Homo sapiens: one gene and its partner. The protein of the gene in region 1 interacts with the protein of each later gene in a pairwise test. Each region holds a gene or a part of one and is shown in the gene's direction. Other genes may lie near its edges.

Region 1 (4,175 bases):
CCTGTGACTTAGAATGCCTAACTGTCTGGGAATGTAGCCCAGTAGGTCTCAGCCTTATCTTACCTAGCCCCTATTCAAGATGGAGTTGCTCTGGTTCAATCATCTCTGATGATTGATTGGTATAAAGGTCAAATAGCTAGTAAGTAATAGAGGTAGAGGACTGTAAACTAGGAATTTTGATTCCGCTATATTTTAGGAATATAGTATCGCTCAACAGCAAGTAATTTTTAAGACATAGAAAGGAAATACATTTTTATATATAAGCTGGACTCTATTCATAATATTAAAAAATAAGGATTTAGACAAATTATAGGATGACAGATCCACATAGATAATTTAAGGAAGTTAGATATGCACTCTATGGCTACAACTGTGTGGAAGATGCACATTTGTCCCCCAAAATCTCTTTATTGAGGCTACTGGTATACACTACTTGGTAGAATTGTCATTAGTCTGACCCAGTTTGAATGACGGTTGAATTTAGGAGAAAAAAGTCCCATCTTTCGACAAAAGTGTACCAGCCCTGTCAGTTTAAGGGAGAAAACATAAACAGAGGCAGTGTAGGGGTGGAAAGGGGATGATCCCTTTCTTTCCCATCATAAGCGTTACAGCTAACACTCCTATAACAAAAGACAGGTTAACAAGAGAAAATTACTAGCCTGGACAACATGGCAAAACCCCGTCTCTACAGAAAATACAAAAATTTGCTGGGTGTGATGGTGTGCCTCTGTAGTCCCAGCTACTCAGGAGGCTGAGGTGAGCAGATCACTTGAGCCTGGGAGGTCAAGGCTGCAGTGAGCCAAGATTGTGCCACTGCACTCAGCCTAGGCCATAGAGTGAGACCCTGTCTCAAAAAAGAAAAGATAAAAACAAAACAAAAACAAGAGAAAAACATTATAAATGTACTGTATTTGATCAAGGTTTGTTTTGTTTGTTTGTTTTTGAGACAGAGTCTTGCTCTGTCGCCAGGCTGGAGTGGAGTAGCGTGATCTTGTCTCACTACAACCTCCGCCTTCCGGGTTCAAGCAATTCTCCTGCCTCAGCCTCTCAAGTACCTGGGACTACAGGTGTGTGCCACCACACCTGGCTAATTTGTTGTATTTTAGTAGAGATGGGGTTTCACCACGTTGGCCAGGATGGTCTTGATCTCCTGACCTCATGATCTGCCTTCCTCAGCCTCCTATTGATCAAAGTTTTACATGATGCAGGAGCCTTCAGAGTGAAGACCCAAAGATACAGGTGACTCTGTCTCATTATATGCTTAGGTTTGATGAAACAGGGACAGTCGTGTAGAAATGTGATTGGACAACAAAGGATATGAGCTAATGGTAATAGAAAACCTAGCAAGACCTGTCTGTTCAGATTCTTGAACTTTCTTTCGATTGTAGCATTTCTCCTTTCAGGATACAGTACGGGATCCTTTCTGGAATGGAGGTCTTATGAGCTGCTATTGAACACGGCAGGTGAGAGAATTTCTTTATGGCCAATTCTTAGACAAAAAGTAGGGGAAGCGGTTGGGCACAGTGGCTCACGCCTGTAATCCTAGCACTTTGGGAGGCCAAGGCGGGTGGATCACGAGCTCAGGAGTTTGAGACCAGCCTGACCAACATGGTGATACCCCATCTCTACTAAAAATACAAAAATTAGCCAGGCGTGGTGGCGTGCACCTGTAATCTCAGCTACTCAGGAGGCTAAGGCAGGAGAATTGTGTGAACCTGGGAGGCAGAGGTTGCAGTGACCCGAGATCGCGCCACTGTACTCCAGCCTGGGCAACAAAGCTAGACTCCGTCTCAAAAAAAAAAAAAAAGTTGGGGAAGCTTAGAGGTTCTGGTTTCTGTAATCAGCCTTGGGGAAGAGGAATTCTATTTTCTATGACTTGCTTCAGGAGAGAATGAGGGTATGACAGATAGACAGGAGGGTAAGACAGGTTGGTTAGAAACTTTGCTTCTGAGGCTGCTTCTGAGGCCTTCACTTTGGGGTATCATTTTCTGAGCCCCAACAGCAGGAAAGAATAAATAATAGGAAATTAGAAAACAGTATTGACATAGATATTTCCTGAATTCTAAAGTGATTCATTGTTTAAAAAATAACATTTTATTGGAATTAATTGCAGAATATCTTTCAGTCTGTTGGTAATGCGATTAAGTTGCAGAATATCTTTCAATCTGTTGGTAATGTGATTGGAATGATGAGTTAGGAGTCAACTAACCATTTCAAACAAATTAACTTTTTGTTGAAATTGTTTAAAAAGACTGGGTGTATTGATAAACTGATGTGGGATATGATAAGATTTCTCTTCAAATAATCTGATCAATCTTTTATTCTTTAATTCATAGTACCCCCCCCCAATTTTTCTCCTTTTTCGCCTTTTTTCCTCTTTGCCTTTGTTAAATGCCCAGGCACGCCACAATACCACGTTTTATCAATACCAACTTACATTCCTTTCCTTATTAAAAAAAAGACTAACTTTCTAGCTCATTACAAACACCCTTTCCCCTTTCCCTCCACTTTTTCTTTTACATGCTCACCCTATCTAAAAAAAATCGAATGTTTAGCCAACCAAAATTAGTTTAAATTGTACGACCCGACCACTACCAATAAAAAAAGAATACAAAGGCAAGACTTGCGTCAAAAATAAAGGCCCTCGTGCCCCTTTGTTCAAGTGCGCTCTCATGGCAACTGGCCGAAGAGACACCCCTCTGCGCAAAAGTAAAATTGCTTCATTAAAAATCCTTTGTTCGAGTGTTCAATTTCCTTAAAATTGTAAGGGTGATTCCTAACACCGACTTCATTTCCTCATTCCTTTTTTGAGATAGAGTCTCGCTCTGTTGCCCAGGCTGGAATGCAGTGGTGCAACCTTGGCTCACTGCAGCCTCCACTTCCCAGGCTCAAGCGATTCTCATGTGAGTAGCCGGGATTACAGGCATCTGCCACCACACCCGGCTAACTTTTGTATATTTAGTAGAGATGGGGTTTCACCATGTTGGCCAGGCTGGTCTTGAACTCCTGACCTGAAGTGATCTGCCCACCTCAGCCTCCCAAAGTGCCTGGATTACAGGTGTGAGCCACAGTGGCAGGCCCTCATTTCCTCATTGTTTTGAAACAAGGCACATACATTTTCTGTAGGGAAAAGAAAGATCAGACTGTTACTGTGTCTATGTAGAAAAGGAAGACATAAGAAACTCCATTTTGATCTGTACTAAGAAAAATTGTTTTGCCTTGAGATGCTGTTAATCTATAACTTTAGCCCCAACCCTGTGCTCACAGAAACATGTGCTGTATGGAATCAAGGTTTAAGGGATCTAGGGCTGTGCAGGGTGTGCCTTGTTAACAATATGTTTACAGGCTGTATGCTTGGTAAAAGTCATCGCCATTCTCCATTCTCGATTAACCAGGGGCATAACGAACTGCGGAAAGCCGCAGGGACCTCTGCCCAAGAAAGCCTGGGTATTGTCCAAGGTTTCCCCCAACTGACACAGCCTGAGATATGGCCTTGTGGGAAGGGAAAGACCCAGCCGTCCTCCCCAGCCTGTCACCCGTAAAGGGTCTGTGCTGAGGAGGATTAGTAAAAGAGGAAGGTCTCTTGCGGTTGAGATAAGAGGAAGGCCTCCATCTCCTGCATGTCCCTGGGAATGGAATGTCTCGGTGTAAAACCCGATCGTAAATTCCTCCTATTCTGAGGTAGGAGAAAACCGCCCTGTGGCTGGAGGCGAGATATGCTGGCAGCAATGCTGCTCTGTTACTCTTTGCTACACTGAGATGTTTGGGTGGAGAGAAGCAAAAATCTGGCCTACGTGCACATCCGGGCACAGTACCTTCCCTTAAACTTATTTGTGACACAGATTCCTTTGCTCACATGTTTTCCTGCTGACCTTCTCCCCATTATCACCCTGTTCTCCTGCCGCATTCCCCTAGCCGAGATAGTGAAAATAGTAATCAATAAATGCTGAAGGAACTCAGAGACCGGGGCCTGTGCAGGTCCTCCATATGCTGAGCGCCGGTCCCCTGGGACCACTGTTCTTTCTCTATACTTTGTCTCTGTGTCTTATTCCTTTTCTCAGTCTCTCGTTCCACCTGACGAGGAATACCCAGAGGTGTGGAGGGGCTGGCCCCCTTCAGTTTTCTTTCCCTCAGGGTTGTATAGTGCATAACGGCCCTTGTTTGGCTAGGAGTAT
Region 2 (5,239 bases), 2.9 Mb from region 1:
AGAATGAGTCTTTCTAGAAACACCAACTGGTTTGGAATTGGGTTGTGCCCCTGGGGAGTCTGTGATGAACTTGAGCTATAGGAGAGGCAACCAGGGAGGGCTCAGTGAGGAGATACCCAAAGGGAGGATGAATGGGGGAGGTAGGAGCACCTTCTGCCTATGAGTGTAGTATGTGCAGGGGATCCTTCTTTACTAAGTTGTTTTCTTTTTGCTCACCAAACCTAGTAAAGTGTTGTGCCTCTGTCTTTTCAACCAGAGATGTATTAAATTTGATCATTAAGACCTTGATTTAATTCTTTTTTTTTTTTGAGATGGGGTCTCACTCTGTTGCCCAGGCTGGAGTGCAGTGGCGCAGTCTCGGCTCACCACAACCACCACCTCCCAGGTTCAAGTGATTCTTGTGCCTCAGCCTCCCTTGTAGCTGGGACTACAGGCATGCACCACCAGGCCCGGCTAATTTTTGTATTGTTAGTAGAGACAGAGTTTCACCATGTTGGCCAGGCTGGTCTTGATCTCCTGACCTCAAGTGATCCACCTGCCTCGGCCTCCCAAAGTGTTGGGATTACAGGCATGAGCCACTGCACCCAGCCAAATTCTTTACGTAAGATTTTTGAGGGAATATGTTCTTGCTACAGTTTTATGACATATCACTGTGGCTCCTATGCAAAATAGTGGTTTCATTATTTTTAAAAATTGTGGTAAAATAAAACATTAAATTTACCATCTCAACCATTTTTAAGTATACAGTTCAGGGGCAATAAGCACATTCATGTTGTACAACCGTTATCACCATCCATCACCAGAACCGTTTTCATCTTGCAAAAATAAACTCTGTACCCATTAAACAACTCCCCATTTCTGTATCCTCCCAGCCCCTGGCAACCACCGTTCTACTTTCTGTCTCTATAAATTTGACTTCTCTAGATGCCTCATGAAGTGGCAGTATTTGTCCTTTTATGACTGGTTTATTTCACTTAGCATAATGTCCTTAAGGTTCATCCATTGTGTAGCATGTGTCAGAATTTCCTTTTTTTTTTTTTTTTTTGAGATGGAGTCTCGCTCTGTTGCCTATGCTGGAGTACAGTGGTGCGATCTCGGCCCACTGCAACCTCTGCCTCCTGGGTTCAAGCAATTCTCCTGCCTTAGCCTCCTAAGTAGCTGGGATTTCAGGTGCCTGCCACCACGCCCAGCTACTGTTTTGTATTTTTAGTAGAGACAAGGTTTCACTGCATTTGCCAGGATGGTCTCCATCTCCTGACCTCGTGATCCGCCTGCCTCGTCCTCCCTGAGTGTTGGGATTCCAGGCCTGAGCCACTGTGCCTGGCCCAGAATTTCCTTTCTAAGGCTGAATAATATTCCATTATATGTATGTACCACATTTCGTTTGTTCATTTGTTAATAGACACATAGGTGGCTTCCACCTTTTTGGCTATTGTGAGTAATGCCAGTATGAATGTGAGTATACAAATACCTTTTTGAAACCCTACTTTCAGTTATTTTGAGTATATACCCGGAAGTGGAATTGTTGGGTCATATGGGAATTCTATTTTTAATTTTTAATGGGCCACCATACTGTTTTCCCATAGTGGCTGCACCGTTTTACATTCCCACCCACAAAGCACCAGGATTCCAGTGTCTCCGCATCCTAGCCAACACTCGTTATTTTCTATCCTGGGTTTGTTTTTTTTTTCCTTCTAGATAATAGCCATTTTAATGGGTATGAGGTTGGTAAGTAGTAATGTTTTTGTAGTGGGCCAGTTTTACTCATTGATTTGACAGGATTTTAAAGAGATCAGTTGTCTGAAATAAGACGTGAATGTTACATGAGAGATAAATGTTTTCAGACACTAGAAAATCGCAATGCCAACACTGAAAGAAAATAAAAATATTTGATGTTAATATTATAATTAAAGATATTGCTTTTCTTAAAATTTAACAAGACTAATTTTTTAAAAAACACTCTTAAGAGCTGTTGAATCCCAGGTGACTATAAGATTAAATGCATTTGTATTAAGTGTAATACCAGAACTGCCTTTGTTGCATTTAGCTTTTAGTCCCAGTTCCACTTCTGGGATACTCAAAATAATTAAAAGTAAGGTCTCAAAGAGGGATTTGTATACCCCTGTTCATAGCAGCATTATTCACAACAGTCAAAAAGGAGGAAGCAACCTAAGTGTTGATTCTTTCTTTTTTTTTTATTTCAACATTTTTTGTAGAGATGAGATCTCGCTGTGTTGACCAGGCTGGTCTCAAACTCCTGGCCTCAAGATCCTCCTGCTTTGTTTTTCTTTTCTTTTCCTTTTTTTTTTTTTTTTTTTTTTTTTAAGACAGGCTCTTGCTCTGTTGCCCAGGCTGGAGTGTAGTGGTGCGATCTTGGCTCAGAGCAGCCTCTGCCTCCCAGGTTGAAGTGATCCTCCGACCTCAGCCTCCTGAATAGCTGAGGCCACAGGTGCATACCACCACACCTGGCTAATTTTTGCATTTTTTGTAGAAACGGGGTTTTGCCATGTTGCCCAGGCTGGTCTCAAACTCCTGGGCTCAAGCAGTCCTCCTGCCTCAGCCTCCCAAAGTGCTAGGATTACAGGCATGAGCACTGTATCCAACCACTTTTTCTTTTTTATGCCATGCTTGGACAGTAATCCTTAAAAGCAAAATGACGAACTGAATGAAGGTAGTCAAAATAGGAGCAATTATTATACAAGTATTATGCTATTTTGATATATCTTCCATAGTATGTGTCTTATTAATGGGAACCAGAACTCTGGGTAGGTATGGGATCCCCTTGTCTTGACAGATATTTGGTAGGATTCTTGTTCAGTTAGAGTTAATAGTGAATTGGAGGCTAATCACCTCACCAGATAGTTTATATAGGACCAGAACCCTTTTTAGTATACAGTATTACTTTGAACCTTAGAGATCTGTTATCAACAGTATAGATAATGACCAAATAATCTTCTTGGATCGAATCTTGTCTTCCGAAATCCATTTCATAAAATAAGTAATATGATAGCTTGTTTGGTAAAGATTTAAACACAAAAATAGCAATAAAACAATACACACCAGGAAAAATTATACCACTGAATGTTTACTTAATTGTTTTTGACGGTTTAAATGCTAGAGAGTTAAAGTTAATTTCACTGGCTTTTGAAATGAAGCCCAGGAAGCATAAAACATAGAATAAAATTTATTACATAAAACAATTATGCTTCAGATCAGTATTAAGACCAATACAAAAGTGGTGGGAAATGAGAGGAAGAGAACAGTAAGGGCATATATGTAGGTGCCGTGAGTTAGGATGATACCTGCTGTTATGGTTAACAGAATTGTGAGTCATTACTTCTAATGAGCATCCCTAGAAATGTTGATTCCCTGGCAGTCACTGTTCACATTTTCATTGCTCCAATTCTTAAGCCTAGAGATACCACTTTCAGTGACATTATCAGAATAGCCTGATGGCAGCATCAGCAATTTAGATTCCAACAGCATCTCTCAGAGAGAGAAGATCAAGCAAAGGCCTCAGGACTTTTGAGCGAGACATCTCTACCTTGATCCATAATTACTCTTATTTGTATACTTTGTTATAATACTTTTTTTTTTGAGACAAAGTCTCGCTCTTGTGCCCCAGGCTGGAGTGCGATGGCGCAATCTCTGCTCACTGCAACCTCCGCCTCCCAGGTTCAAGCGATTCTCCTGCCTCAGCCTCCTGAGTAGCTGGGATTACAGGCGCCTGCCACCATGCCTGGCTAATTTTTGTATTTTTAGTAGAGATAGGGTTTCACCATGTTGGCCAGGCTGGTCTTGACTGAACTCCTAACTTCACGGAGTCTTGCTCTGTCACCAGCCTAGAGTGCAGTGGCGTGATCTCAGCTCACTGCAACCTCCACCTCCTGGGTTCAAGCAAGCGATTCCCCTGTCTCAGCCTCCCGAGTAGCTGGGACTACAGGCACGTGCCACCGCACCCAGCTAATTTTTTTGTTTGTATTTTAGTAGAGACGGGTTTCACCATGTTGGCCAGGATGGTCTCGATCTCCTGACCTTGTGATCCACCCGCCTCGGCCTCCCAAAGTGCTGGGATTTTGCATGAGCCTCTGCGCCTGGCCTGTAATACAGTTTTTAAATCTTATTTTTATTTCAATCTTATGTATACGGTTTAAAAGTAAGTAGTATACAAAGCTTATAATAACAGAGGCATCTACTTTTTTAAGCAACTTCTGGTATTTTACTCCATATCTAGCGCACCAGCATGGCACATGTATACATATGTAACTAACCTGCACAATGTGCACATGTACCCTAAAACTTAAAGTATAATTAAAATAAATAAATAAATAAAAAAATAATAGTAGCAGTAATGGTAAAAATAAAAAAATAAAAAAATGCTCATATTAGGCTGGGCTCTGGTTTATGTAGCTGTGGTTCAAATGAAGCCTCATGGTGTATCATAATTACATTTCTTTATAAAAATGTTTTGTTTTTATAAATTTATATAAATTTTATAAAATTATAAATTAAATGTTTTTAATTTCCTAGAATTAAAAAGTGCCTTGGTTCTTGTTATTTGCTTGACGTTTTTTTGAGACTGAGTCTCACTCTGTCGCCCAGGCTGGAATGCAATGGCATGATCTTGGCTCACTGCCACCTCCATCTCCTGGGTTCAGGCAATTCTCCTGCCTTAGCCTTAGCGGGGATTACAGGCATGCGCCACCACACCTGGCTAATTTTTGTATTTTTAGTAGAGACAGGGTTTCACTGTGTCGGCCAGGCTGGACTCAAACTTCTCACCTCAAACGATCTGCCCGCTTCCACCTCCTAAAGTGCTGGGATTACAGGTGTGAGCCACCGCGCCCAGCCGAGAAAAACTTTTAATTGCTTATAATGGAGATAGTTTTTTTTCTGTGTGTGCGTTTGACTTTTGTGCTCTTATAAACAGCTGATTTTATAATAAATACTTTATTGCTGACTGAAATGTACCTATTAAGTTGTACCTCCAAAGTTGTATGTGGAAACAAGTGTGACTTTTCAGTTCATTGATTTTTGTCCAAATAATTTTCATTTTAAAGGTCTTACAGGTGAGGAGAGTTTAAATGCATTTATGTAAATACAGGTGGTCAGAGTGTAGGAAGGGTGAGCTGTCGAGGGCAAGCAATATGCATTTCTCTGTTGGCTGTTTATCTAGATGCAAGCCTTGTGTTTTTGTGCCTAATATAAAAAAGTGGAGGAATTCGATTTCTGAGCTTGG

Evidence for each region. Proteins that work in one complex are often made in the same cells at the same time.
Region 2: the proteins of ACKR2 (region 1) and SACM1L interact in a two-hybrid assay, tested with the Homo sapiens proteins (one large-scale study listed by BioGRID and IntAct).

The regions. Positions count from the first base shown.
Region 1 is NC_000003.12:42,808,070-42,812,244, forward strand, and holds the start of ACKR2 (atypical chemokine receptor 2), read left to right. Parts: upstream 1-1,375; 5' UTR 1,376-1,463; intron 1,464-4,175.
Region 2 is NC_000003.12:45,694,971-45,700,209, forward strand, and holds part of SACM1L (phosphatidylinositol-3-phosphatase SAC1), read left to right. Parts: intron 1-5,239.